Homo sapiens: one gene and its partners. The protein of the gene in region 1 purifies or fractionates together with the protein of each later gene. This does not show direct contact. Each region holds a gene or a part of one and is shown in the gene's direction. Other genes may lie near its edges.

The links.
Region 2: the proteins of LHX6 (region 1) and TLK2 purify together in Homo sapiens (affinity purification with mass spectrometry; 3 studies listed by BioGRID and IntAct, with this or other methods). This does not show direct contact.
Region 3: the proteins of LHX6 (region 1) and QRICH1 purify together in Homo sapiens (affinity purification with mass spectrometry; 3 studies listed by BioGRID and IntAct, with this or other methods). This does not show direct contact.
Region 4: the proteins of LHX6 (region 1) and SATB2 purify together in Homo sapiens (affinity purification with mass spectrometry; 3 studies listed by BioGRID and IntAct, with this or other methods). This does not show direct contact.
Region 5: the proteins of LHX6 (region 1) and TRIM33 purify together in Homo sapiens (affinity purification with mass spectrometry; 2 studies listed by BioGRID and IntAct, with this or other methods). This does not show direct contact.
Region 6: the proteins of LHX6 (region 1) and ATG2B purify together in Homo sapiens (affinity purification with mass spectrometry; 3 studies listed by BioGRID and IntAct, with this or other methods). This does not show direct contact.
Region 7: the proteins of LHX6 (region 1) and ZNF507 purify together in Homo sapiens (affinity purification with mass spectrometry; 3 studies listed by BioGRID and IntAct, with this or other methods). This does not show direct contact.

Annotation. Positions count from the first base shown.
Region 1 is NC_000009.12:122,222,123-122,226,187, reverse strand, and holds part of LHX6 (LIM/homeobox protein Lhx6), read left to right. Parts: intron 1-4,065. UniProt on the Homo sapiens protein: Probable transcription factor required for the expression of a subset of genes involved in interneurons migration and development.
Region 2 is NC_000017.11:62,593,513-62,597,577, forward strand, and holds part of TLK2 (serine/threonine-protein kinase tousled-like 2), read left to right. Parts: intron 1-3,072; coding exon 3,073-3,162; intron 3,163-4,065. UniProt on the Homo sapiens protein: Serine/threonine-protein kinase involved in the process of chromatin assembly and probably also DNA replication, transcription, repair, and chromosome segregation. Phosphorylates the chromatin assembly factors ASF1A and ASF1B.
Region 3 is NC_000003.12:49,059,457-49,063,521, reverse strand, and holds part of QRICH1 (transcriptional regulator QRICH1), read left to right. Parts: intron 1-4,065. UniProt on the Homo sapiens protein: Transcriptional regulator that acts as a mediator of the integrated stress response (ISR) through transcriptional control of protein homeostasis under conditions of ER stress.
Region 4 is NC_000002.12:199,342,484-199,346,548, reverse strand, and holds part of SATB2 (DNA-binding protein SATB2), read left to right. Parts: intron 1-4,065. UniProt on the Homo sapiens protein: Binds to DNA, at nuclear matrix- or scaffold-associated regions. Thought to recognize the sugar-phosphate structure of double-stranded DNA.
Region 5 is NC_000001.11:114,504,623-114,508,687, reverse strand, and holds part of TRIM33 (E3 ubiquitin-protein ligase TRIM33), read left to right. Parts: intron 1-4,065. UniProt on the Homo sapiens protein: Acts as an E3 ubiquitin-protein ligase. Promotes SMAD4 ubiquitination, nuclear exclusion and degradation via the ubiquitin proteasome pathway. According to PubMed:16751102, does not promote a decrease in the level of endogenous SMAD4.
Region 6 is NC_000014.9:96,325,058-96,329,122, reverse strand, and holds part of ATG2B (autophagy-related protein 2 homolog B), read left to right. Parts: intron 1-356; coding exon 357-449; intron 450-587; coding exon 588-776; intron 777-3,200; coding exon 3,201-3,474; intron 3,475-4,065. UniProt on the Homo sapiens protein: Lipid transfer protein required for both autophagosome formation and regulation of lipid droplet morphology and dispersion.
Region 7 is NC_000019.10:32,344,105-32,348,847, forward strand, and holds the start of ZNF507 (zinc finger protein 507), read left to right. Parts: upstream 1-1,505; 5' UTR 1,506-1,679; intron 1,680-3,140; 5' UTR 3,141-3,234; intron 3,235-3,380; exon of another isoform or gene 3,381-3,526; intron 3,527-4,743. UniProt on the Homo sapiens protein: May be involved in transcriptional regulation.

The DNA of each region.
Region 1 (4,065 bases):
GCCTGCACAGGTTTGCGCCCCGGATCTGCCTTCGGTCCTCGCGGTCCATTGGGTTTCGGTATCGTCTCTGGCTCTGTCTCGGGTCCTGCCTAAGTCTCAGGCTTCAGTTCTGACCTCGAGCGCCTCGGTGGAGCTCTGAGGTCCCCATTTCTGGCCCGGACCCACTCGGATCCCAGCCGTCGTCCGGCTGCATTTCCAGTGCGTTCGGGCTTCGAGTTCCAACCCTACTCGGACGTCATTCATGGTGGGGTCTCTCGCGGGCTGGACGCTGAGCTGGGCTTCGGACTCTTGCCCTGGCTCTGACCCTCGCTCCGCTCTGGGTTCGAGTCTGGTCCAGCCCAAAGCACCAGCGCCGCAACCGTCTCAGATCCGATCCCATACCCAAGCGCCTCGTCCTGAACCCCAACCTCTGTCTCCGGCTCCATCTCAACTCATTCCCCGGCGTCACTGGAGTGTCGCATTCTGAGCCTGGGGTCATGCGCAGGCCCCCAGCGCCTGTTCCAGTCCCAGCTTCGCTGTTGTTTTGGCCCGACTTTGGCCTCTCCAGGGTCTAGGCCTTGCCTTTAGGCCGCCAGGATGGGAAGTGGGAGAACTGGGCACCCGGAGCCCTGAGTGGGATTACCCCGGGCTGCGCTCTCCCTACTGCAGGCCGCGTCCAGCAGCCGAGAGCAGCCAGGCGCATCCTCCTGTCCTGCCGCGTCTTGGCCACTCGCCTGGGCCTCGCTTCTAGCCATGAAGCCCGGACCTGACCTGATTATGGGGTCGAGGTCACTGCAGGGTCATGGCCTTGTCTGCTGATCCCAGTGGGAGGCATCAACTGGCCTGAGGCTTGGACCACCAGGCCTATAGGATCAGAGGAGAATGGTGGAGAATCACTTCCTGAGAGGGATGCTTGTTCCCAAGTGCTTTCTCAAAAAGTGGAGAAAGCTGCTTCCCTATAACTACCCTCCAACCCACAGACATCTTTCCTATCCTTGCACAGGAAGACGTCATGGCTTCAGTCTTCCTGGCCAGACCCCTGCCCTAGAAAGAGCCTCTGGGAGTCAGGGAATATGGTGGAAGGCGATCTCCTCCTGTGCACTGGCATTGAGCCTCCAGCGATCTGGAAAGAGAAGATCTTGAGTCTAGGGGGAGGTTGGCAGCATTTGGGGCAAGGGTACTCTGAAAACCATGAGAAGCATGGTTAAAGAGACGGACTCTTCCTTTATGGGATGGATGTAGAAGAGTGTGCAGCTGGGGTGGGGTGGGGGCAGCTCAACCAAGTGGCCTAGGACTCAGTGTGCAAGGAGTGCCTGTGTGTCTGTATTGTCTGGGATCTGTGCAGTAGTGCTGGGGAAAGCATCACTGGGCAGGGTTGGGGGTATGTAGATAGCATGTGTGTTCCTTTATGGACCAACGTTTGTCTTTTAGTTCATGTGTGGGTGTCAAGAGTGGGTGTCTGTATGTGAATGTTGAGACTGTGTGTGTGCATGTGTGTGTGCGTGCACGTGCACGCAAAGTGGTGAGGACAGGATTACATCTGGACTAGGATCTGGAGGTGAGAGGGTGAGGTGAGGGGATTCTGAAATCCCATCATTCCACTCCCACCCTCTCCTCTGAGGGGGCATTCCTGCTTAAGGGCCTCCACCCAGGCACTGAGGGATGAAGGGGGTGATAAGAACGTATTTGTGAATCTGGACGGCTGTGTGTGTGTGTGTGTGTAGTCAGACAGGGGTTAATGGTGTGTAACCAGAGTGTGATGTCTCCTCTCACTGTCCCATCTGAGTATTGGTTTGGCCAGGACAGGAAATGGAGGTTACAGTCACTGTCTAGCCACCTCCCTGCTCTAGGCCTGACTCCAGTTGGTATAAAACATGCCAGATGGGCCGGGTGTGGTGGCTCACACCTATAATCGCAGCACTTTGGGAGGCCAAGGCTGGTAGATCACAAGGTCAGGAGATCGAGACCATCCTGGCCAACATGGTGAAACCCATCTCTACTAAAAATACAAAACTTAGCCAGGTGTGGTGGCACGTGCCTGTAGTCCCAGCTACTCAGGAGGCTGAGGCAAGAGAATCACTTGAACCTGGGAGGCGGACATTGTGGTGAGCCAAGATCACGTCACTACACTCCAGCCTGGGTAACAGAGAGAGACTCTGTCTCAAAAAACAAACAAACAAACATACAAAAAAACATGCCAGATGATGCTTGGGGGCTCCTTGGATTCATCAGCTACTAAATTTAAGGTGCCAGCTTGGGAACCCAGCAGAATGGTGTCTGGGTCTCTCCCATAGACTAAGGCACCACTAGGACACCTCTCCTGGCTCTCCTAACAATAGATTTGGCAGTCTTATTCACTACTTGCCCAAATTTCTTTTCTACTTCTCCAGCCCTAGCCCATGCCCATGCTGGACTGAGCCTCCTTGGATACTGTGCTTTACTAGACCTTGAAACTAGTCAAAACACGGATCCTGACTCCACTGTTCAGAGCCTCCCCTTATTCTGGAGTTCTCTTCCTACTGCAATGGGGTAGAGAGTAGGGTGTGCAGCCACTGTGGGAAGAGGCAGGAGACTGGGCCCAGTCTGGCCAGTAGTGACCTTCGCAAGTTGCTGCTTCTCTCGGCCCTTAGTTCGCCCTTTCCAAGGCTGTCTCCCAGAGCTGCCAAAGAGGCCACTGTTGGGGGGAAGTCTCTATAAAGGCTCCCTAAATGGTGGTTGGTATGAATGCCTCGATTATCACTGTTGTCATCATTGGCAGGGTGGATGCTGGGCACAAGCCCATGATGGCATTTCCCCACGCAGCTTGAGGAGCAGAGCCTGCCTGGAGGGATGGGACTGGGCCATTTCTGGGCTGCAGGTTCTGAGCACTAATCTTTTTCCAATGACAAGAGCCCTGAAAGCAAAACTAAACCAGATTTCTGGTTAAGAAAATGGAGGCAGTAAAAGCTCACATTCCCTGGGTTGAGGGTAGAATTGTGGCTCTTCTGATCATTTCTCCCCCTGCAGGCATAACCCATCCCTGGCAGCCCCACCTGTAACAAAAATAATAAAACCCACAAAAAGGGAAAGAAAAAGCCGATCGAGTGCCAGGCAAGGACTATTGTCTGCACTGCACTGCAGCCCAAGCTCTGGGTGGCTGCTATGAGGAAGTTCTTCCTGGAGAGAGTGTGAATGGTGGCGTGGGAGGCAGAATTTTCCTCTAAGGAGCTGGGGCCCAGGGAGGGGTCACATGCTGAGGTTCTCTAGGCTTCTGTTTCCTGAAGCCCGGGGTCAAGGGTCTGGTAGGATGTGGACTGGAGCACTCTGCCCAAAGAGAGGCCAAGAGCTCCCAACGGGGCAAGGGGGAGGAAGGGAGTGGCCAAGGCCCCATGGAGGGGGAGCATGGAGATCCCATGGTCCTCTAACCTCTGGCATTTTCCCCAGGGAAGAGGGTCACCTAGGTTCTATCCCCCACCTTGTCCCTCCTTGACATCATCTTATAGACCCTCCTTCAGTCTCCATTGGCAGAGCTAGCACTGGTGGCTCAGGGAATTAAAGGTTAGGAAGGAACTCCAAGTTCACCAGGGAGAGGGTCTGCAAAGCTTAGAGAAGACATGGAGGTCCAGTGCTGCTCCTGGCTCATTTGCATTGTTGGGAGAGGTTGGTTCTCATTGGCTGCGTGTCCTTGGCCAGGCCACTGGACTCTGCCTCAGTTTCTCCAATTCACACTCTAAACAGGGTCCTTACCAACCCTTGTGCGTTTATCCAGATCTCTACCTCCCCTTACTCCCTGAGATTCCCAGCAGGAAAAAAAAATACCACCAGAAAAATGTGACAGGACTCTTAATTTCTTCACCTTTTGGTGAAGACCATTTTTCTTTCTGTTTTCTTCCAAAAATGGAAGAAAATTCTGGAGGAAGAATAGTGCTCCTTTCCGGGACATTCACATTTCCCCTGCTACCGACAACCATAGCCCCAGACATACCTGCAGCTGCTGCCCTACAATAGGGCATGGCCCGATCTGCAGTGCCCACCTGGCTCCCCCAGCCTGCTGGAACATCATGCCTGCTGTATAGTTGGGGAGACTAATGTCCTGGGAAAGTGCCA
Region 2 (4,065 bases), on another chromosome or scaffold:
TTTTTCTATTACAATTTTTTTTTATTTTTAAACATTTTTTGTTAAGAACTAAGGCACACAACTCATTAGCCTAGGCTTGCACAGGGTCAGGACCATCAATATCACTTTCTTCCATCTCCATCTTGTCCCACTGGAAGCTCTTCAGGGCCAATAACATGCATGAAGCTTTCACCCCCATGATAACAATGCCTTTTCCTGGGATACCCTCCGAAGGACCCGCCTGAGGCTGTTTTGTAGTTAATTTTTTTTTTTTAATAAGTAGAAGTGGTACACTCTAAATTTTTTTTTTTTTTTTTTTGAGATGGAGTCTCACTCTGTCGCCCAGGCTGGAGTGCAGTGGTGTTATCTCAGCTTACTTCAACCTCTGCCTCCTGGGTTCAAGCGTCTCTCCTGCCCCAGCCTCCCAAATAGCTGGGATTACAGGTGCACACCACCGCTCCCTGCTGCTTTTTGTATATTTAGTAGAGACGCAGTTTCTCCATGGTGGCCAGGCTGGCCTCAAACTCCTGACCTCAAGTGATCCGCCTGCCTCAGCCTCCCAAAGTGCTGGGATTACAGCCGTTAGCCACCGCCCCTGCTCTCTAAAATTTAAATAATTAAAAAGTACAGTGCAGGCCAGGTGCCGTGGCTCATGCCTGTAATCCCAGCACTTTGGGAGGCCATGGCAGGCGGATCACTTGAAGTCAGGAGTTCAAGATCAACCTGGCCAACATGGCAAAACCCCCTCTCTACTAAAAATACAAAAATTAGCTGGGCGTGCTGGGATGTGCCTGTAATCCCAGCTAGTTGGGAGGCTGAGGCAGGAGAATCGCTTGAACCTGGAAGGCAAAGACCACAGTGAGCTGTGATCGCGCCACTGCACTCCAGCCTTGGCAACAGAGCGAGACTCCATCTCAAAAACAAAAAAAGTGCAGTACATAAGCCCTCACTTAGTAGCAGTGATAGGTTCTTGGAAACTACAACTTTAAGGGAAACAAGGTGTAACAAAACCAATTTTACCATAGGCTAATTGACATAAACAAGAGTTAAGTTCCTGTGGCATATTCCTGGTCACAAAAACATTACCCAGCTTCTAAATAAAGACTAAAACACTTCTAATACTAAACGTTGAAATGTATATGAGCTTTATATACATTTAAGAAAGTTTAATAGAAACAAGGTAACATTTACCCACTCATTCCCCACTCAGGGTTGAGGGTGGCCAGAGCCTATATCAGCAGCTCAGGGGCAAGGTGGGAGCCACCCTAGACAGGATGCCATCCCATTGCAGGGCGGGTACACACACACACACACACACACACACACACACACACACACACCCCATGTGGGTATGCCGGTGAACCCAACACATGTGCCTTTGGGATGTGGGAGGAAAGCAGAATAACCTGAGAAAACCCACACAGATAGGGGAAGAACAAACAGACTCCACATGGACAGTGGTGCCGACCAGGAATTGATTTTTTTTTTGAGACGGAGTCTAACTTTATCACCCAGGCTAGAGTGCCATGGCGCAGTCTCGCCTCACTGCAACCTCCACCTCCCAGGTTCAAGTGATTCTCCTGCTTCAGCCTCTTGAGTAGTGGGGATTACAGGTGGCCACCACCACGGCCAGCTAATTTTTGTATTTTTAGTAGAGACGGGGTTTCACCATGTTGGGTCAGGCTGGTCTCGAACTCCTGACCTCAGGTGATCCAGCGACCTCAGGTGATCCACCCGCCTTGGCCTCCCAAAGTCCTGGGATTACAGGCATGAGCTGCCGTGCCTGGCCCCCTTTTTTTTTTTTTTTTTTTTTAAATCAGCGTTATAACAAAATGATGTTATTTAAGGGCCTGCTGTATAGTAAATACATAAACCAATAATGTATTCATTTATTATCATTATCAAGTGTTATATACTGTAGATAATTGTTAGGTGCTAGACTTTAATATGGCTGGCAGCACAGTAGGTTTGTTTACACCAGCATCACCACAAGCGCGAGTAATGCATTGTGTGGTGACATCATGACTGCTGGGTTACCAGGTGATAGGAATTTTTCACCTCTGTTGTACTTTTTTTTTTTTTTTCTTCCTCAGTTCATGGGAAGCTCTGTTATACTCTTATGGGACCCCGTCATATGTGTGGCTTAGCATCATTGACCGAAGGGTTGTTCTGCAGTGGATGACTGTATCAAATTCGCCATTCTAAGAAAACTGGGGTTCCATAATTTCACATTTCATATTTTATTAGAATAAAGTAAAGCTAATAGCACTTAAATTGTTTTTGTAAGAAGGATTTAAAAACAAAAAATACAAAGTACTGCTAATTGATTTATGTAACAGATAATGCTTTAACCTAAGGGGTTTACATGCTAAAAATGACCCCTTTGATGTTACCCGAGCATATATACATTTACAGATATGATGTATCAGCTTTAGAGGAGGGGGGAAAATAACCGTCCTTGTTATTTTAAAATCTATGATACTTGAGTATACGTGGAAAAGAGGTGTGATTATCATAGAATGAACTTGAAAGGGATGAAAAGGGTTGACATCCATTCACTTAACAAATATTTGAGCACCTGTTATTTTATTTTATTTTATTTTTGGAGATAGAGTCTCGCTCTGTCACCAGGCTGGAGTGCAGTGGCGCGACCTCAGCTCACTGCATCCTCCAACTCCTGGGTTCAAGTGACTCCTACCTCAGCCTCCCGAGTAGCTGGGACCACAGGTGCGCACCACTACGCCCAGCTAAGTTTTATATTTTTAGTAGAGACGGGGTTTCACCATGTTGGCCAGGATGGTCTCCATCTCTTGACCTCGTGATCCACCTGCCTCGGCCTCCCAAAGTGCTGGGATTACAGGCGTGAGCCACTACGCCCAGCCAGAGCACCTATTATTTTCTCAATGGCTTGGTAGATTCCAGTGGAGAAAATAGGATGAGCAAAGAGAAAAGTCAGATGAGGGACCAGATGGACCTGAATGGAATTAACATGTGGAGACAATAGAGAAATGATTGAATATTTAGGAGGATCTTTGAAGAGTTCTAAAAGGCAGGCCAATATACCTTCTTGTTAATTTTCCCTTTTGTTTACAGGCATGCATGTAGGGAATACCGGATTCATAAAGAGCTGGATCATCCCAGAATAGTTAAGCTGTATGATTACTTTTCACTGGATACTGACTCGTAAGTGCTGTGCTGTTTTACCTTAACAGTTATATTATTTTCTTGCAATGCTGATTGTTCATGGAATAGAGCTGAACTCTGGGTCCAGGACATACCCTCTGAGGGAACCAAGTAATTTGTGACAAATGATCAAACATAAATTCAGATTTGGATCAGCAAGAAACCTCTAGGCCAAAGGACATGTGCACTTGTGTGCCAGTAAATGTTTAACAGCCAGCTTGGTATGAAGAGAGACAGGGCTAATTTATAGTGTTTGCCAGTTTCCGTGGTGTAGATATTCCTCCTGTGTCTAATTTTGATGTACCACCTGTTTATTTTTGTTTTTTTTTAAACATCTTAATTATAATTCACATACTGTATGATTCACACATGTAAAATATACAGTTTAGTGGTTTGTAGCATATTCATAGATACATGCAACCACCAGAGGCAATTTTAGAATTTTTTCACCATCTCAAACCCCATCATACCTTTTACTACTATTCATCTATTCCACCATTCCATCCCTCTGCCCTAGCCCTAATCTGTCTGTTTTATCTTTATAGATTTCCTATTCTGGACCCTCATATGCATGGAATCATATAGTATGTGGACTTTTATTACTGGCTTCTTTCACTTACCATGGTGTTGTCAAATTTCATCCTTGTAGCCTGTGTCAGTACTTCATTCCTTTTTATGGCAAAATAATATTCCATTGTGTGGATATACCACATTTTGCTTATAACGGTTTGATAACCAGCTCACAAAATTCTTGAAAATTTAAGTCAGCTCTTGGAAACTGGCATGAGTTGGTGCCAGCATGCCACTGACGTGCACTAGTGAGTGTAGACTGTTCAAGAGAGTTTCTGCTCACCCCAGAGACTCTTATGAACATTGACAGACCTTTTTAAAAAGTACTGGCCG
Region 3 (4,065 bases), on another chromosome or scaffold:
CACGATGCCCAGCCCCAAATTCAGGCTTTGACTAAGAAATCTTGAAAACTGCTGTTCTGCAGTAATTGGCTACATAGTTTCCTCTTATGTCTTTGGCATATAGCCCTAGTTCTTAAATTTGACCATGTAATTACACTGGAGGACTTGATAAAACCACTTCTTAGAATTTCAGAGTTAGTAGGTCTGGAGTGGTACCTGACAATTTGTATTTCTGAGTGCCTGGATGCTGCTGCTGCTGTTGGCATGGAAACTACATTTTGAGAACCACTGGTGCAAGGAAATAATATTTTACTTCATGGAGAGAAATAATAAACCTACTTATTTGAACACCTATTATCTGTAACTAAATATTATTTTATGTTTAAAACACTGTAGGGAAGTAGACATTCTCCCCTTTTATACTTACTGTACCTAAAGAAACTGTTTAGAGGTTAAATTTCCCCATGGATTCACAGGCAGAAAAGTGCAGCATCAATTCACATTGAAGTCTGTGATCTCAAAACCTGAGCCTTTTTTTTTTTTGAGACGGAGTCTCGTTCTGTCACCCAGGCTGGAGTGCAGTGGCGCGATCTTGGCTCACTGCAAACTCCGCCTCCCAGGTTCACGCCATTCTCCTGTCTCAGCCTCCCGAGTAGCTGGGACTACAGGCACCCGTCACCACGCCTGGCTAATTATTTTAATAGAAATGGGGTTTCACCATGTTAGCCAGGATGGTCTTGATCTCCTGACCTCATGATCCGCCTGCCTCGGCCTCCCAAAGTGCTGGGATTACAGGTGTGAGCCACAGCGCCCGGCCTTTTTTTAAAAAATATACTTAGTAACAGCTTTATTGAGATATAAGTTACCCATTTGAAATGTATAATTCAGGCACACTGGCTCACACATGTAATCCCAGCACTTTGGGAGGCCAAGGCAGGTGGATCACTTGAGGTTAAGAGTTTGAGACCAGCCTGGCTAACATGGTGAAACCCTGTCTGTGCTAAAAATGCAAAATTTAGCTGGGCATGGTGATGCGTGCCTGTAATCCTAGCTACTCAGGAGGCTGAGGCAGGAGAATTGTTTGAACCAGGGAGGCGGAGGTTGCAGTAAGCTGAGATTCCACCACTGGGCAACAGGGCAAGACTTTACCTCCCAAAAAAAAAAAAAAAAGCGACTACACCAATTTTTTCTTGTTTTTTTTTTTTTCTGAGATGGAGTCTCACTCTGTCCTTGACTGGGCTGGGTATAGTGGCGCCATCTCGGCTCACTAGCTTCCACCTCCCAGGTTCAGGCAATTTTGCTGCGTCAGCCTTCCGAGTAGCTGGGATTACAAGCATGTGTAACCACGCCCAGCTAATTTTTGTATTTTTAGTAGAGACAGGGTTTCACCATGTTGGCCAGGCTGGTCTGGAACTCCTGACCTTGTGTCCACTGGCCTCAGCCTCCCAAAGTGCTGGGATTACAGGTGTGAGCCACCGCATCTGGCCAACTACACCAATTTAACATGCCCACCAGCAGTTTCAAGTTGTCTATATCCTTACCTATACTTGTTATCTGTCTTTTTTAGATATAACTTATTAGATATAAAGTGGTTTCTCATTGTGGCTTTGATTGGAATTTCCTTCACAGCTAGTATGATATGGAGCAACTTTTTATGTGGTTCTTGGCCATTTGCATATATTCTTTTTTTTGGGAGATAGTTTCACTCTTGTTGCCCATGCTGTGGTGCAGTGGTGCAATCTCGGCTCACTGCAACCCCCACCTCCTGGGTTTAGTAGTTCACCTGCCTCAACCTCCCAAGTAGCTGGGATTACAGGCATGCACCACCATGCCTGGCTAGTTTTGTATTTTTAGTAGAGACGGGGTTTCACCATGTCGGTCAGGCTGGTCTCAAACTCCTGACCTCAGGTGATCCACCCACCTTGGCCTCCCACAGAGCTGGGATTACAGGCATGAGCAACTGTGCCTGGCCTCATTTTCTGCCTTCTTGTTTTCTACCTTTCTAATTCCTACTTGTGGTTAGGGTAATTTATCTATGTGTCTGATGGTAAAAGCTGTTTTTTAAAAGTTGCATACTATGTATTTTTTTCTTTTCATGCTCTTTTGCATGCTGACATAATAATAAGACAGTAACTGTATTGTTATCAGAAACATGTCATCCAGGTTATGGTAATATTGCTCAGATTAAATTATTGGGATTCTGTTTATTTAAATGCCTTTCCCATTAAACATATGTTAAGTAAGCACTCTAAAGCAGTGGTCCCCAACGTTTTTTGCACCAGGGACTCGTTTTGTGGAAGACAGTTTTCCACAGACATTGATGGGGGTGGTGCTTTGGGATGAAACTGTTTCACCTCACATCATTAGGTGTTAGATTTTTTTTTTTTTTTTTTTTTTTTTTTTTTTTTAAGATGGAGGCTCACTCTGTCACCCAGGCTGTGATGCAGTGGTGCTCTCTCTGCTCACTTCAACTTCCGCCTCCTGGGTTCAAGCTATTCTGCCTCAGCCTCTCAGGTAATTGGGATTACAGGCATGCACCACCATGCCTGGATAATTTTTTATATTTTTAGTAGAAGTAGAGGTGGGGTTTCACCATGTTGGCCAGGCTGGTCTTGAACTCCTGGCCTCAAGTGATCTGCCCTCCTCAGCCTCCCAAAGTACTGGGATTACAGGTGTGAGCCAATGCACCTGGCCAGGCATTAGATTCTAATAAGGAGCATGCAGCCTAGATACCTCACATTTGCAGTTCACGATAGGGTTTGTGCTCCTACAAGAGTCTAATGCCACCATTGATCTGACAGGAGGTGGAGCTCAGGTGGTAATGCTCACCTCTGTGCTGTGTCGTTCGCCTACGGACCAGTACTAGTCCTTGGCCCCAGGGTTGGGGACTTCTGCCCAAAAAATCAGGCTGGGGGCTGGGTATGGTGGCTCACGCCTATAATCCCAGCACTTTGGGAGGCCAAGGCTGGTGGATCACCTGAGGTCAGGAGTTTTGGACCAGCCTGGCCAACATGGTGAAACCCCGTCTCTACTAAAAATACAAAAATTAGGGCTGGGTGTGGTGGCTCACACCTGTAATCCCAGCACTTTGGGAGGCCAAGGCAGGCAGATCACGAGGTCAGGAGATCAAGACCATCCTGGCTAACACGGTGAAACCCTGTCTCTAATAACAATACAAAAAATTAGCCAGTCGTGGTGGCGGGTGCCTGTGGTCCCAGCTACTTGGGAGGCTGAGGCAGGAGAATGGCATGAACCTGGGAGGCGGAGCTTGCAGTGAGCTGAGATCACACCACTGCACTCCAGCCTGGGCGACAGAGCGAGACTTGGTCTCAAAAACATATATATGTATATATAAATTAGGTCTGGGCGTGGTGGCTCACGCCTGTAATCCCAGCACTTTGGGAGGCCGAGGTGGGCGGATCATGAGGTCAGGAGATCAAGACCATCCTGGCTAACACGGTGAAACCCTGTCTCTACTAAAAATAAAAAAATCAGCCGGGCGTGGTGGCACGCACCTGTAGTCCCAGCTACTCGGGAGGCTGACACAGGAGAATCGCTTGAACCGGGGAAGTGGAGGTTGTAGTGAGCCGAGATCGCACCACTGCACTCTAGCCTGGGCGATAGAGCGAGACTCCGTCTCAAAAAAAAAAAAAAAAAGTTAGCTGGATGTGATGGCAGGCACATGTAATCCCAGCTACTTGGGAGGCTAAGGCAGGAGAATAGCTTGAATCCGGGATGCAGAGGTTACGGTGAGCCGTGACTACCATATCACTCCAGCCTGGGGAACGAGCGAAACTCCATCTCAGAAAATAAATAAATAAGGCTAGGCATGGTGGCTCAAGCCTGTAATCCCAGCACTTTGGGAGGCCAAGGTGAGCGGATCACAAGGTCAAGAGATCGAGACCATCCTGGCCAACCAACATGGTGAAACCTCGTCTCTACTAAAAATACAGAAATTAGCTGGGGGTGGTGGCATGCGTCTGTAGTCCCAGCTACTCAGGAGGCTGAGGCAGGAGAATAGCTTGAACCCAGGAGGCGGAGGTTGCAGTGAGCTGAGATCATACTACTGCACTCCAGCCTGGTAAC
Region 4 (4,065 bases), on another chromosome or scaffold:
CTGGTTGAATTGAAATGTATTTCTATTATGTAGGCGATTTAAATTTTTATTAGTTTTGAAATTGTCGTATGATTAATGAGTCATTGAAAAATGAGTTTTTGTGCTGGGTGCGGTGGCTCACGCCTATAATCCCTGCACTTTGGGAGGCTGAGGGTGGCAGATCACGAGGTCAAGAGATCGAGACCATCCTGGCCAACATGGTGAAACCTCGTCTCCACTAAAAATACAAAAATTAGCTGGGCGTGGTGGCGTGTGCCTGTAATCCCAGCTACTTGGGAGGCTGAGGTAGGAGAATCACTTGAACCCAGGAGGTGGAGGGTGCAGTGAGCCGAGATTGCGCCACTGCACTCCAGCCTGGCAACAGAGCGAGACTCTGTCTCAAAAAAAAAAAAGAAAAAGAAAAAAAGAAAAATAAGTTTTTGTTAATGGTTGGGATTTTCTTACTGGCCTCGTGGCAAGTTTTGTTATCTCTTATTATATATATTCTACCTTTTTATGGGAAAAACTACTCTTTTTGGTGTAAAGATATTTTTTATATTTTCTTTGCTTGTAAAGAGTTATTATCAATTTGTAAGTATAAAAACTGCAAGTATAGTTGGTAGTTGATAAGAAAGGTAGATAATAAAACTTAAAAGGGATGGACACAGATTGAAAAAGGCCTTGAGTGCCAAGACAAGAGCTCTGAACTTTAACAGGCACTGGAAACCGTCATAGGTCTTAGGTAGGAATATGCTGTGCTCCCACCATCTTAATTAGGTCTTATGGAGGTTTGATAGCAAGAGGGTAGGAATATCATTTAGCAGGCTACTGCAAGTATCCAGGTGAAATGTACAGAGGTTTTGAACTAGGCTGCTGGGGAGGGTGCAGAGAAGAAATATTTTGGAAATAAAATGGACAGAAAGTGTATAAATGGATAAAGAGAGGAATAGAACTGACACCAGGCTTCAAGCCTGATGCCTGAGAATAAAGGTGTAATTATGAAGGGAATCCAGGAAGACATGGAAAGAGTGGTTGGAGTAAGGTTAAAGTGATAGTTTTAGATTGGGTTATTTTGACGTTGAAGTGTTGACCAACTTCTTAAGTGAAAATGTGCAACAGTCATTGAAAATATGAGTTTGTGGGGGGAGGGGGGAGGGATAGCATTAGGAGATATACCTAATGTAAATGACGAGCTAATGAGTGCAGCACACCAACATGGCACATGTATACATATGTAACAAACCTGCACGTTGTGCACATGTACCCTAGAATAATAAAAAAAAAGAAAAGAAAAAGAAAATATGAGTTTGGCGCTAGGAAGAAGAGTTATCAGGACTAGAGCAAGAGATTAGAGATGTTGTCACAGAGCCTGGGACAGGAAATGGAAGAGTCAGGGGAGAGAAGGGGAGAAATCACTGCTATCACCACCACCAGCAGCAGCAGCACCAGCCCCAGGAAAGAGAGAAGAAATGCCAGGAGATGGGGGCAGGTGGAGAAGGAAGAAGAGGGAGACAGTAGTGAGAGTATAGAGGACATGCGTGGAGAGTTTCCAGAAGAAGACTTGTCTACTTGTGGAAAGCTGAGAAGTTAAGAGAGAGAGGCTTAAAACCATGTCATGAGATTTGGCAGTTGGTTGGGAGAAGACTGGCGAAGTTTAGAGTATAATTTCATTAAAGTAGTGGGGACAGGAGCCAGAATTCAGGAGTTAAAGAGTGATTAGCTGTTGAGGATGCAGAAGTAAGTACATGACACTTTCCAAAATTTGGTGTTGAAAGGGAGGCCAAAGTGGGTGGACAGTTTGGAAGTGATAGGGGGTCAATTTGAGATCACAGGATTTGGGAAGTTCACAGCATGAACTGGTGATGATACCAATCATTGTGGTTTGGTAACGGTCTTCAGCGGTGCTGGAACTTCAGGACTGGGAGCAAGGAAGAAACACAGTGGGACTGTTTGAGGTTTGGTGCTGACATTTTCGGTATGGCAGGAGGCCAAGAGAGGTAAAAATCTCTTGTTCCCTTGACTCTTAGCTAATTTATACATTCTAATATTGACAGAGTCTGTTAACATCACTTGAAAATGAGTTTGGAGGTCCTGAGAGACTCTCACATGTTCCAGACATCACTCTTCCACTTTCTCTCGTGATTCAAAGTACTCGGGCAATATTTGTGTGTCCATAGTTGTCTGGACTGGGGTTATGAAAGGCTCTGGTCCTTTTGAGAAAGTCTGTTGCATACTACTGCAAAATAAAAATTGGAAGGATCTATCTTTTGGCTCTGTATTTTGCAGTTCTCTGTCTCTGTGTGTGTGTGTGTGTTGTGTGTGTGTGTTCGTTCATCTGTCCTTCATGTGCATGAATAGGCATTTCATGGCTAGCCAACATTTTATTGCCTGGTTATGTATACAGCTCCTTTGGCTAAGGATAAAATTGAAAGCATGGTTGTATTACTTTGGATTTTAGAAGCAAATACAGTATACATTTTATCCAAGTAGCATGAAGCATGAGAGAAGACTCACAATGAGGCAAAACAAAGACAGACCATATTGGCGAGAGTGTATACTTTGCCAAGGACCTAGACTCCTGGAGGTCTGTCTTCTCCCATATAATCCTTTTTGTCTATTTTTATGGATTAATGATTTTTCTTTGGCGTTGCCATCTTTCAAGTGCCAAGTTATAAAAGGTCTAATTGAAGCATGAAACACATTTTATTATTTTCCTCCTGCCATTAAATTTGTAAGATGGCTACACCTAGAAAGAAACATTCACTTTCAATCAACATGAGCTTGAGTTCATGGGCCAGCCTTGAGGATATCAAATGGAAACTGCGTAGGAATGTATGAGTATTTCCTTTTAAAATTCTGCTTTTAATTTAGGAAAGCTTTTCATCCCTCTGGGATCATAACCTGTTGTGTATAAAGCCCAACCTAATCAAGGTAGATGGTACTGACAGAATGACATAGTTTGAACTTAAGCAGGAGGTCAGCAGGCAGATTGTTTTTTGCTGTATGTACTGTAGTCACTAACAGCCGGACTGGGCAGCTGGTTTTACCAGCAGCATTGTTAAATGGAAAATATGGTATATTATGCCCCATGAAACCAACCATAGATTTTCCAAACGTTTAGACTTTTTTGAGTGGAGTCAGATGTTTATGGATGATATAATGACTTGCCAGCTATAATAAACAAAAATAAACATTGTAGCATATCCTCAGTCTATTGAATATTTTCCAGAAATAGTTCATGATCTCTATTATTCATATATTATCAAATTCAATAAAAAGCATTTTAATACATTTTGTCACCTTATATTTTGTGTTCCTGGATTTGTGCTTCATGGTTATACCAAGAGCAAATCGTGTGTGTTCATTTTGTCACCTTATATTTTGTGTTCCTGGATTTGTGCTTCATGGTTATACCAAGAACAAATCGTGTATGTGTGTGTGTGTGTGTGTGTGTGTATAAAATAAAATAATATGTAAACATTTACAAATAAACCTGGAACTGTTAGAAAAGAAAACCCTGCCCAGTTTTTCATGTTTAAGATTTCCAGATGAAAAACTTAAATTCATAATAAATAACATTTCAAATGTCAGTTCTCCAAAGAGAAACTATTAATTACCCTGTTATGGCTGATTCATTGTCACCATATCATTTGATGATGTAAAATAACACAGTTAAGAGAATAGAGCCATATTTTCAAGAGCTTCTTTTTAGTTTATTTTTATTTTAATAAATATGTCTTTTAAGAATATAAAATGTATTTGTTTGATAAAATGATGCCCTATCCACACTTTATGACAAGGTCATGGCATCTGCTGGAGTCAGAGATAGACAGCCTTTTGCCAATATTTTATTATTTATTTATTTTTATCCTTACATTTCTCTTTTGGTTTGCTAACAGAAACATACATGGTCTAAACTAGGAACATAAAATTGAGTCACTTGTTCTGGGGTAGGGATACAGCACATTAGAGGTCATGCAATGCCAGGATATGGGATCTCCAGCATGAGCCTGAGACTAACGTGTTTCTAGACACAGGGTGTGGCTGAGCCTTGTGTCCTGTCTGTGCCATTAGGTCATTATGACC
Region 5 (4,065 bases), on another chromosome or scaffold:
ACATTTTTTGTTTGGTGGATGGCAATGCTATTAATACATATTCAGACACTGAAGCAGGGCTGGGGTGAGGGTGAGGGCTGGGGTGTAGGGAGGATAAAATGTTTTCAGATTGGGATGTTTTGGGTTTCTAGCATTATTGGTACATGTAGGTAAGAATGTTAAGAGTAAGGCTTTGGTTGTTGGAGAAGCTACTAATTGTTAGTAGGTGTTCAGAGAATAACTGCTGGTGGTCTGTGCACCCATGACCATAGTAAGACACATAGGATTCAGTGTTCTTGTGGGAACCTGGGTTAGGTAAGAGATTTAGAGGGAACCCAGAAATACAGATTGTGTTTGACTGATGTGGCTGAGGGACTGAGGTTATGAAATTGGCTCTCTGAAATTTATGAAGGAGAGAGAATAATATGTAAATCCCCTCTTCATTTCTTTATCCTTTCTTTTTGAAGGAGGGGGAGTAAGTGGAAGGGACTAACCAAATGCTGTCAATCTTAAGTAATATTTCTCTCTAACCAATATCTAAAACAAATTGAGTCTGGAATCCACCATGTTTTTGATTAAAAAAAATTTTTTTTTGAGACAGTCTCGCTCTGTTGCTCAGGCTGGAGTGCAGTGGCTCGATCTCGGCTTACTGCAGCCTCTGCCTCCCAGGTTCAAGCGATTCTTGTGCCTCAGCCACCCAAGTAGCTGAGATTGCAGGCGCATATCACCACGCCTGGCTAATTTTTCTGTTTTTAGTAGAGACGGGGTTTTGCCATACTGGTCAGACTGGTCTTGAACTCCTGGCTTCAAATGATCTGCCTGCCTCAGCCTCCCAAAGTCCTGGGATTACAGGCATGAGCCACTGTGTCTAGCCATCCACCGTGTTTTTAGATAGTCTAGAAAATAATTTGTCAGTATTAACTCCTATATACCATTCTGCTTTGCTCTTTAAAAAGATCAAGCTGTGCTGGAAAGAGCACTAGATTGGGTGTTAGGGGACATAGTTCAGCTCTTTAGCTATTTTACGCTAAAGGAAGTTCATACTGTTTTTGTCCTTCAGTTTCCCTTTAAAATGTAGCTGATAGTCGTTTACTTATATCTCACCAAGGCAAATAATAAATGTGAAAATGCTTTGTAACTGAGAAATGCTTCAACAATACAGGATATTATTGATCAACCTCAGATATCATCTCTGGTCTGGAGATCATAGCTAGTGGTTTTAACTCACCATCTTTTTCAAGTGATTTTGAAACAATGATGAGTATAATGCCCTCCTGCCTAACTGGCCTTTTCCTGTTTCTCTTAATACATTTATTCACACCCTCTGGCTGTTCTTTCTAGATCAACAGTTCTCAGAGTGTGGTTCCTGGATCAACAGCATCAGCATCATCTGTGACATTGTTAGGAATACAGATTCTTGGGCCGCATTCCGGACCTCCTGTCCAGTAGTCTCGTTTAACAAGCTCTCCAGGTGATTCTGATTCACGCTTAAGTTTGAGAACCACTGTCTTGAATGAAGGGCTCTCACTTCAAATGTCTCCTCAGACTTTGACTTCTCATTTTAAAGTAGTCCTCCAGGTCGCTCTCTGATAGATCATCTTATTTTCTTTGTAGCACAGCTAAAATCCAAAATGTTTATTTTTGTTTACTTGCCCGTCTCACTTTGCACTAGGATATTGTAGACTGTTCAATAAATAAGTTTTGTGTAAATAAGAATCACTAGAGAGCTTATTAAAATGCTAACTTGGGAGTTTCTTCAGAGACTGGTTTAGTTGATTTGGTGATGACTCCATGTGCCTGCATTTTTAACAGGTGCCCTGTGATTTTGATGCTGGTGGTACCACCACACTTTGAGGAACACAGATTTAAATATTTTGAGGAGAAAGTACAATCTGTTTACCGTTGGAGTATTTGCAAAATCAAAATAGATAAATTAGTTAATATTGAATCTCAATAGTGAGCTTTTTAAAGTGTTTTTGTGATTTTTTGGGGGGTGCTTTTTCAGGTTGAGGCAGAACAGCTATCAGTAGTGGGTATATATACATTTATACTTTATCAATAAAAATACAGATTTGCTACTCAGGAGGCTGAGGCGGGAGGATAACTTGAGGCCAAGAGTTCAAGATCAGCCTGAGTAACATAGCAAGACCCTGTCTCTCAAAAAATCTTTTTTTAAATAGGAATCATATTGATGCATCTGAACAAACTCTCAGATGAACTCTTGAAGGAGATGAGGCTACCTCTGAGATGGCACAATGATGTGGCTGAAGAAATGAATTGGTATTAAGTTGCATTGGGTTCTGCTATTTTTTTTTTTTTTTTTTTGAGACAGTTTTTTACTCTTGTCACCCAGGCTGGAGTGCAATGGTGCGATCTCGGCTCACTGCAACCTCCACCTCCTGGGTTCAAGTGATTCTCCTGCCTCAGCCTCCCCAGTAGCTGATATTATAGGCACCCGCCACCATGCCCACCTAATTTTTTGTATTTTTAGTAGAGACAGGGTCTTGTCATGTAGGCTAGGCTGGTCTCGAACTCCTGACCTCATGTGATCCACCTGCCTTGGCCTCCCAAAGTGCTGGGATTATAGGCGTGAGGCACCACCTGGCCTCGGTTCTGCTGTTAGTTAGCTACGTAACCCTTGGGCAAGGAACCTAGGAAGTCTCTCCAGGTCTTGCAATACGAAGAGGCTGAGTTCCTATCCCGTTAGGTTATATGATTCTATTGTCTTTTATGCTAACATTCTGTATGTACATACGTTTAATGTCCTTATAGTTTGTGGGGAGGAATAGTGGAATCACCATGGAAAAATCATTCTGTTACTGAATTCTTCAACTTACTGTGGACTGGGCACAGTGGCTCATGCCTGTGATCCCAGCACTTTGGGAGGCCGAGGCGGGCAGATCGCTTGAGGTCAGGAGTTCGAGATCAGCCTGGCCAACATGGCGAAACCCTGTCTCTACAAAAAATACAAAAATTTGCCAGGCGTGGTGGCAGGCACCTGTAATCCCAGCTACTCGGGAGGCCGAGGTAGGAGAATCACTTGAGTCTTGGAGGCGGAGGTTGCAGTGAGCTGAGATCACGCCACTGCACTCCAGCCTGGGGGACAGAGTGAGAATCCGTCTCAAAAACAAAACAAAACGAAACAAAAAAACTTACTATGAAAAGTCTGAGATGGCAACAATCATGTGTAAGTGGGAGGGAAAACCTCTGAGTGTAGTGTGAAGAGCACTTCCTCATAGTGTTTCTGTCTGTTTATCACAGACCATGCTGAGCCACTCTGAGGAGTCTTCTGTTTGAGCCCTCGGAATTTCTTGTCCCTGGAGTGTGTATACTATATGACAGTTCTGGCCTCAGTGTGACTTAACTGGTTTGGGGACTTTTTAGGCTCTACTTTTTCTGACTCTCCTCTTCAACAGAAACAAGCTTGAGTGTTTGAATGATCATGTGGTACTCCACCAACAACCAGTCATTAACGATGTGTCCAAGATTGCTGAAATACTTCTCACAACTTCTGTCTAGCATTGTGGTCAAACTACCTGAATTCATTTTTGAGCTCTACCATTTACTACTGGAATGACCATGGATAAGTTACTTAACATCTGTAAATTGGGAGTAATAATTACACCTACATCATAGAGTTTTTGTGAGAATTAAGAGAGTTAATGTGTTGCAAGGTACATTTATTGGGAGCTTACATGGGAAGCCCCCAATAAATTGTAGTAGTGTTATTTCGGTAATTTTTCATTTGTCCCCCCGTTGTCTTTGTGACTGTATCTCACAGCAAACAGAAAGAAGAGGCAGGGGGGTAAATTGTGGTTTTAAAGGCTTTTCTGATGTCTACTGATATGTACAGCATGCATGATAAATCATTTGAGTTCCAAATCTTCTAGTTACCTAGATCTTGTAAAAACTTATAAACTAATGTCCTAAATCCTAAGTCTTTATAATGTCTAGTATTTGTACATCAAAAGCCCTAGTTAGGGGACTTTAATTACTTTTACTTTTCTCATGGATTCTGCTGTCAGTGGGTCCTAAATGAGAATACCTTAAAGCAGTGATTCTCAAAGTGTGGGCCACAGAATGCTG
Region 6 (4,065 bases), on another chromosome or scaffold:
TGTCTTGTGTTCATTCACCATTTTTCTGATATTTTTCCTAATGTAAAAGTGTGACCTAAAGAAACTTTAGAAAACTGTCAAAGTTATGTTCATTGCTGTTACTTTGACCCTTTATAGTGTTTTATTTCAAAAACACTTTCTTGGAAATGAATTTATTTGAATCCTCGCCTACATTTTACAGATGAGATATCACATGAGTTAACTAACTTGTCTAAGGTTCACATTGCTAGTAAGTGACAAAAATGAAACTTAAAACCAGATTTCTGACTTCAGAAAGCCTTTCTCATTATTGTATGGGCACCTCTGTAAATTCTTGTGATTAATACATTTAATTTATCTTCATCTTTACTTTTAAGCTTTTAACGTTCCATTCCAAAGAAGAAACTGGTTCCCATTCCCCTGTGTGTCTTCAGCTTCATTATAAGCATTCTGAGAATAGAGGGCCCCAGGTAAGAGATCTTTTTCTATAATTGCCACCTGTAAATTTTAATCTGATATATATTTTGTCACAATTATAAGGTTTTAACCCAATTATATAGTAGTTTTTAGTGATTGTATTAATGCCTTTTCTTTTTTTTTTTTAAAAGGGTAATCAAGCAAGACTTAGTTCAGTTCCTCACAAGGCAGAATTGCAAATTAAATTAAATCCAGTGTGTTGTGAGCTGGATATCAGTATTGTGGACAGGTTAAATTCCTTGCTTCAACCACAGAAACTTGCCACAGTAGAGATGATGGCATCCCACATGTATACTTCATATAATAAACATATTAGTCTGGTAAGTATTCAAAAGCTGCAAATACTAATCATAATTATGGTTAGCTAATAGGGTTATTGAGATAATTTCTGAACTTAAGTATTTTTAATAGATTAAACAGTATAATTAAAATAGCATTATTTGTAATAATAAAAAAAGGAGACATCTTTTATGTCTTGATAGTAGACTAGCTAAATAAGTTTTTGAGACACACTGAATGAAATGTTATGTGGTCATTTAAAATGATGGTTATGGCCAGGCGTGGCGGCTCACACCTGTAATCCCAACACTTTAGGAGGCTGAGGTGGGAGGATCACTTGAGGCCAGTTCGAGACAAGCCTGGCCAACATGGCGAAACTCTGTCTCTACTAAAAATACAAAAATTAACTGGGCATGGTGGCACACACCTGTAATCTCAGCTACTCAGGAGGCTGAGGCATGAGAATAGCTTGAACCCAGGAGGCGGAGGTTGCAGTTAGATCGCATCACTGCACTTCAGCTTGGGTGACAGAGCGAGACTCTGTCTCAAGAAAAAGAAAAAGAAAATGATGGTTATGAAGATGGTATAACAACATGAAGAAGGCTCATCAAGGATTAAATGAAAAAGTAGAATATATTGCTTTACATAAACTTGTCACACCTGTGTAAATAAAATTGATGTATAGAAAAAGAATGGCGAGAAATATGCCAGTCAGTAGCATTGTTTATATTACAGTGGAATTAGGTTTCCTTTACTTTTCATGTCTATCAGAGTTTTTATAAGCTGTGATTATAACGACTTTATAAAATTTTATCTATTTATACATTTGATAAGTTACTTGAACTACCTAAAACATGAAGCCCAAACAATATGGGATATACTTTTGAAAATAATCTATTGAACATCACATTATATCACTTTTACTTGCATCTGGTGCCTGGGGTCTTTTCTAAGCAAATTAAATCAGTCAAGTTTGCAAGAAGTCTGTTAGGAATTTTGGGGCCAGAGGACCAGGATCAGATGGAGACAACCTTAGTTAAAAAGAAAAGGAAAAAGATATTTTATTTTTCTACTTCTTTGCTTTTCTCTTAGTATTGAGTATTCACATCAAATTAGCATTGTTTATTATTATTATTATTATTATTATTATTATTATTGAGACAGACATCTGTTGCCCAGACCGCAGTGCTGTCATACGGTATCAGCTCACTTCAGTCTTGACCCCCTTGGCTTAAGCGATCCTTCTACCTCAGCCCCCCAAATAGTTGGGGCTACATGCATGTGCCACCACACCCGGTTAAGTTTTTATATTTTGTCTCCCTATGTTTCCCAGGCTGGGCATTCTTTGTTATTGTTATCAATTGCTAGTTATTTTAGTTTCTGTGGGGTAGTCTGTATATTAGCTGTAACTATATATGCAATTGGATGATGGTTTAATCTGTTGGGTTATTTTTGCCTGAGAGTGGTGGTTAAATATTAGCAAATCAAATGGGGAGAGTTAGAATAGATTTGTTAAAAATCCAAGTCTGGATGGGTGTGGTGGCTTGCACCCATAGTCCCAGCAACTCAGGAGGCTGAAGCAGGAGGATTGCTTGAGCCCAGGAGTTTGAGACCAGCCTGGGTGATACAGCAAGACCTGTTTCGAAAAAAACAAACACAAAAATTGTAAGTCTAGCATATGCAGGGAGTTTTCAAATCATGGAGGTTAGAAATTGATTGAAGAAACTGAGGAGTGTTACAACGTAGAGTGGAATAAAGCTTTTTTAGTTTCAATATATTTTAGAGAAAAAATAGAAATAGATTTCTATTTGAATGGGATGTTCTTTGACCCTTTTATTGTAAGATGGCTTTGGGTAAAATGGTGCATATATCTTGGTCTCATAGAACCATTTGATGAGATCATACCCTTGGATTGGATAGGAGCTCAGAGTGCGTCATTTAGTGAATATTTATTTAGAACCTGTGATGTGCCAGCCTCTGGGTTTTATCTTAGAAGTACAAAGTTGAGTCAGCGATTGTATTTGGCATAATTCATCTGATTTCACATTGAGTATTTAAAATCATATATTGGTAGAAAAGTCTTTCAAACTGAATGTTGGACACTACAGTGATTTTTAACCGTATTGAATTTGTTGGTAGGCTAATTTACACCGTATTCTTTATAAATTTATAGTAAGATAAATATTAATATATAGTGCCTTTGTCTTCACTTTGGCTCAGTTTTTAATTTAATTTTTTATTTCAGAGTTTAACTTTTGCCAATAGTTTTCACTTTTGCTAATAGTTGTTGCATTATAAAATTTTTTTACACTAAATTAATATGGTAGTGGTTAATTTGAATTGACTTTTAATGCATTATACCAAATGGGGAGATAGTGATTATACATATTGTAATGTTGAATACTGTGTAATTTATGTTCATTTACTTTAATATTTTGGCATATTTTTGATGTTTTGTGTTTTAGCACAAGGCTTTCACTGAAGTGTTTCTAGATGATTCACATAGTCCTGCAAATTGTCGGATATCAGTACAAGTTGCCACACCAGCATTAAACCTTTCTGTTCGCTTCCCAATACCTGATCTTCGATCTGATCAAGAAAGAGGACCATGGTTTAAGAAGTCACTTCAGAAGGAGATCCTTTATTTAGCCTTCACAGATCTAGAATTTAAGACTGAATTTATAGGAGGATCAACCCCAGAACAAATTAAATTGGAACTTACCTTTAGAGAACTAATTGGTAAGATTGAATGTGCCTGTAAAAGAACCATCCTAGATAACAAACAACTGCTACTGAAACTTAACATCACAAAAGTATCTGACAGCCCTGCAATATAGTACAATTAAAGAACATTATGTTAAAATCAACAGCAACAATGTCTTTCTAGTATTGTATGCAAATATGTGATATAGGTAATTTTTTAAAAACTAAGGATGATGATTCATTCACTTTGTTAAAATTCCTGTTTACTGCAGGAGAGTGTAGTACTTTAGCCTACATTTTTATTACCACCTCTCGTTTATTTATTGTAGGACTGATAATAGAACTTGTTAAGTGCCACTGTATGTTAAATATTATGCTAAGCACTTGATACACATTTTCTTGTTTTTTTAGTCATCATAATCACCATATGTTTATTTTTCCAGTTATTTTTATAATTTAATAGATGAGACCATCTGTGGACCTAGAAGGAAGTATCTACCAAGATCATGTTGTAGTCAATGGCAGAATCAAGATTTGAACCCAAGTCTGACAGTGGAGCTTGAGCTTTCAACCATTACACTAACTAATCGCTAGTGACTTTTATTTGTAAAACTCGTTTTGATTTTT
Region 7 (4,743 bases), on another chromosome or scaffold:
TTTCTCATATTACTTGTTTGTTCTCCCTTTCAACACTTCGTATTTCTGGGTTTTCTTCACTGTTTTTTCTTTCCACCCTTCCATGCTAGTCTCCTGCTCAATCTCTTACCTTTTATCGAAAAAAAAATTACTCAACATTTTATTTTTTCACAGCTATTTGGTCTAATTGGCAAAGGATTCTGTGGAATAGCAGAATTCTAACTTTGCAGCCGGGCGCGGTGGCTCACGCCGGTAACCCCAGCACTTTGGGAGGCTGAGGCGGGCGGATCATGATGTCAAGAGATCGAGACCATCCTGGCCAACATGGTGAAACCCCGTCTCTACTAAAAATACAAAAAAATTAGCTGGGCATGGTGGCACGCCCTGTAGTGCCAGCTACTCGGGAGGCTGAGGCAGGAGAATCACTTGAACCTGGGAGGTGGAGGTTGCAGTGAGCCGAGATTGCGCCCCTGCACTCCAGCCTGGGGAGAGAGTGAGACTCTGACTCAAAAAAATAAAATAAAAATAAAAATAAAAATTCTAACTTTGCTGGTTTCCTAACCCCCAAATTCAGATGAATTTGAATTCTGAAATACAGTAACAGGAATTATCAGCCTGTCTGATTCTAAATTTTGTTGGATCTTCCTCCCAGGACCGTGGACAGCCCAGCCAGCTGTAAAGGCCTCTAAAAAGATCTGGAACAGATCCCCAAGAGGTATCTCACCAAATGAGTCCATTCCACTACAATGGCCAGAATCTTCAGTTTTACACCCTTGCTCATGCCCACCGCTCACCCGGAGTCCAGACCCAAGCACCATGCTGCGTAGTTCCTAATACGGCAAAACTATCCAGCATTTTTGGTGAAATTGGCTGGAATGCTTCACTTAGTCCGTTTTTCACTGTTAGCAGGAGAACCACCCTAGTATCTTTCATAGAACAGATCCGAATGACAAACACCATCGTGCCCTCGGAGGGCTGAGCTTGTGTTACTGGGTCTGGTCCTACAAACCCTGAAAATCCTGAATCTCTCAAGCAAAGAGATTCCCCAGGGCCAGCTCTGGCCCTTAACAGGCACCCCTTAACGCCAAGCTGCGAATCTGGCTAGGACCTCTATATTTTAGCCAAGAACACCTTGAAATGTACAGTCCTACCAAAGGAACTAATACAAATCCAGAAGCACAAGGCTAAAGAAAAAAAAAAAAAAAACCCCAATGCCCATTGTTGAAAGCCAATTGCGGGGTGAGTGGGGTGATAAGGCTAGCCCACAGCGGATTTAGGCGACGTGGGGAGATGCCAAAGTGAATACACGGTGACTTCTAAATCTAGACGTCTGGAAGGGGCCATGAGAGCCAGACAACTGGGCCCGAACCCCGCCCGGGAGCCAGGGTTTGCAAGGGGCTAAACCGGCTGGGGAGCCTCCCTCTCGCGGGTCCAGCCTCGGCGGCCCGGGACGCCGGTAGGCGGGGCCTGAGCCTCGCCCCGCCCCCGCTGCCCGCCATTCGGGTCACCTGACCCACCCGCGGCTCACGTGATCCGTCCCCAGCGCCGCCATTTTGGAGCTCCGGATGAGGAGGGGGAAACCGGGGGAAAAGAGGGAAAAGAGCCGGGAGAGAGGTGGGCAAGGACGAGGGCGAGGGCACGGCCGGGTCCTGGCTGGCCAAACGAGGCTCGCGGAAGCAGCAGCCGCCGCCTGACCGCAGGTACCGCGCCCCGGGGCCGCCCCTCCGCCCGCTGTTAGCGCCGCCGCCGGCCATGTGCATCCTCCCCTCAGGCCTCTGCCGGCGCTCGCTTCCTCCTCAGCCGGCCGACCCCCGCCCGGTGCTAGCCACAAGCCCCAAGTTCCGTGTCCCGGTTCTGTCTTCTGTGCAGCAAGGCCTGCGGAGACTCTGGGCTTGCCCTGCAGCTGGGGGTGGGGGGAACTTGCTGCTCCCTGCATACTGTCACCAGCCCGGCCCGCCCGCAGGCGTTGCTTCCTTCTCCAGGCGTTGCTTCTTTCTGCAAATGTGAGATCGCTTAGGCCAGCCGGGATGGACCCAGCCACGATGTTCTCACAGCATCTTTTGATTAATTTTCTAAGCTCCCTCATTCCCGACCCATCACCTCAGTCCTTTAGCCAGTGCGTGGTGTAGAAAAAGCTACTACAGAAACGCAGCCCTGGTCTTCTGCATTTATTACCATCCTCTGGAGATAGAATGATGTCTCCAGAGATCACGGAGACCATCAGGGAAAGTTCCCACCTCTTAAGACCTGGGGGCATCGGAATGAATGGTTTGTGTAGAAGGCCGGGATGATTAATAAGGTGGCGGCCACTTTCCCAACCCCAAGGCGGTATTTTTAAGTTTCTGCAGTGGGCTGTAATTTGCTATCAGTCTGCATCGCTCTTCTCAGGCAATTACTGGATTTATCACCTCTTTGAGTTTGCACTTTCTCCAGTACTCCCCTCTCACTCAGAGTATGGGTTGCATTATTGATTAAAAGAAAGCCTGGCCCTTCATTCCTTTACCTCACTAACTCGTTGAAAATTAACTTCAGGGGAGCCCTAAAGATGTTTTTTCTGCCCTGGCAGTGAGCTATTTTACTTAACCGTAATCGATAAGGTAGTTGCATTCTAGGTGAAACGAATAAGCATTTTTTTATCTTTTAGATTTATTCCAGCCAGTATAAGAAACAGTGGCAAAGAAATGTAGGACCAGAGTAGGAAACTGCGTTAGAAGATATATAGGTCACACCACTGTGTCATATCTTTTTATGCTGTTTTTCTGCCTATTGTGCTTGGTTGCAGAATCACTCGTTAGATTGTATTTTTAGTTTAGATTAAAATAGCAATGTGCAATTTATTGTTCCATTCTCATTAGAAAATGTTGTCAGTAAAACCAATAGTGTTGAGTCCAGTACCTAAATTCTGAGGTAAAACAAAATACACAATTATTGGGAGAAGTTTCCAGAGCTATTTTTTCCTAACTTCTGCAAAATCCTCAAGTCGGCTTGTTAGATAAATTATTTAAATTTGCATTACGTAATAGGGTTGCATGAACATTCCTCTGAATTTCTTTTTACATGGAATATTGAGAAATTTTTCACTGCCAAAAAAAAAATCATTACTTTGTTTCACCAAGAAAGAGAAATGTTTTGATACTATATACTTTCGTTCTTGGCCACAGCTGGATTTTGAAGATTGATCCAAGGGACTGTATTAATTTCAGGAATTGATTTGAAAGACACTGGCTCTGCCACTTAACAGCCATGTAACCTTGGGTAAGTCACTTAAACCACACTGAGTGTTTCCTTATTTATAAGACTGTATAACACCCACCTAGCCTGTCCTAAAGAGTTATGAGGATCAGATACCACTAACATGTTTGATAGAGCCTAGCTGTAAGGAGCTGTTACTCTTTTCAGTATTGATATTTTGTACATTTTTATTCTCATTGAGAATTAAGATGAAAATTGGTGTATTAGAGAAAGCATGGTTTTAGAGTGAGATTGGCCTGGATTCCTGTTCTTAAACCAGTTACCACTTTGTGTCTGTGAGTCTCAGGTTTCTCATCTGCAAAAAAAAAAAAAATACACAAAATTTGAATATTACACAAAATCTACAGAGGCATTACTCCCTAGACTTGCACCTCATGGGCAAGGATTTCCTCAGTCATTTTTGTAGTCCCCAGCATTCTGGTTGGCACATTATAGGTGCTCAATAAATGACAGTAAATCTGAATATTGGTTAATGTTAGTTAGACCTTATGTCTTCATTGCAGCTGCCAAATTAGAATATTCTCTCAGGCTATGTGCCAACTAAGAAACTCTAGACTATGAAACTCCATATACTTGTGATATTTATACTCATTTTTTTCTTAGTGGTAATTAATAATTACCTTGGGCTCAGAAGATTTTAAATCAAATAAATTGTAGCCAATATAGTGAGGTAAATCTATAAATAATGTGTAAGCAGTTTCCAGGTAACTTTATAGACAGTTTATAATTCAGGGACCTGAAAGTTCATCTAGCTTCACCCTCTTGTTTTACATCTGAGCAATCTAAAACTCACAGAGACAGTGACTTGCCTAAGGTCACACAGCTAATTGAGGGCACTTTAGGGGAGGGACCCTTGAGCTTATGTCCCCTGCCTTCTTTTGGCTGGAGCAAAATAAATTTGTCATATTTTAGAATTACAATAATCTGGAAGAATGGGGAATTTATTGGCCATTACTTTTATAGCACAATTTTTTTTTTTTTCCCATTTTGGAAAAAACAAATTCTTGTTCTGAAAGAGAAGGTTCTTTTGTATCATATTGTACTTTTCTTCATATAAACACAGAAAATTACAGCCTTTTCTCCAGGCCCACATGAATTGTTCAACTTGATTTTACTCATGATGACCATACTACTGTAATTATAAAGAACTAATTAGATACCCAAATAACCAAATAGCAAATTATAAGGAAATAAAGACAACTGAAATAATTTGGCTCCTAACTTTTTGTGAGAAAGATATTAATTAGAAGCATTTGCCTGTGGAATACTGTTGTCAAGGAAAGATTTGAGAGAGTTGGTGGAAAGGGTTATAGAACTTTTCTGGTTTGGGATACAACTTTTGTTTATTACTTATTTATTGGTAACAATTTAATATATTTAATGTTGTTATGTCTAAACATTACAAACAAGAAATCTCCTGTTTTGCTAATGCCTGTCGTCTTCTTTCCTCCTGGTGAACTTTCCTATTCAGCCATATCGATCTTTTCACTCACCCCCAGATAGCATGCTTAT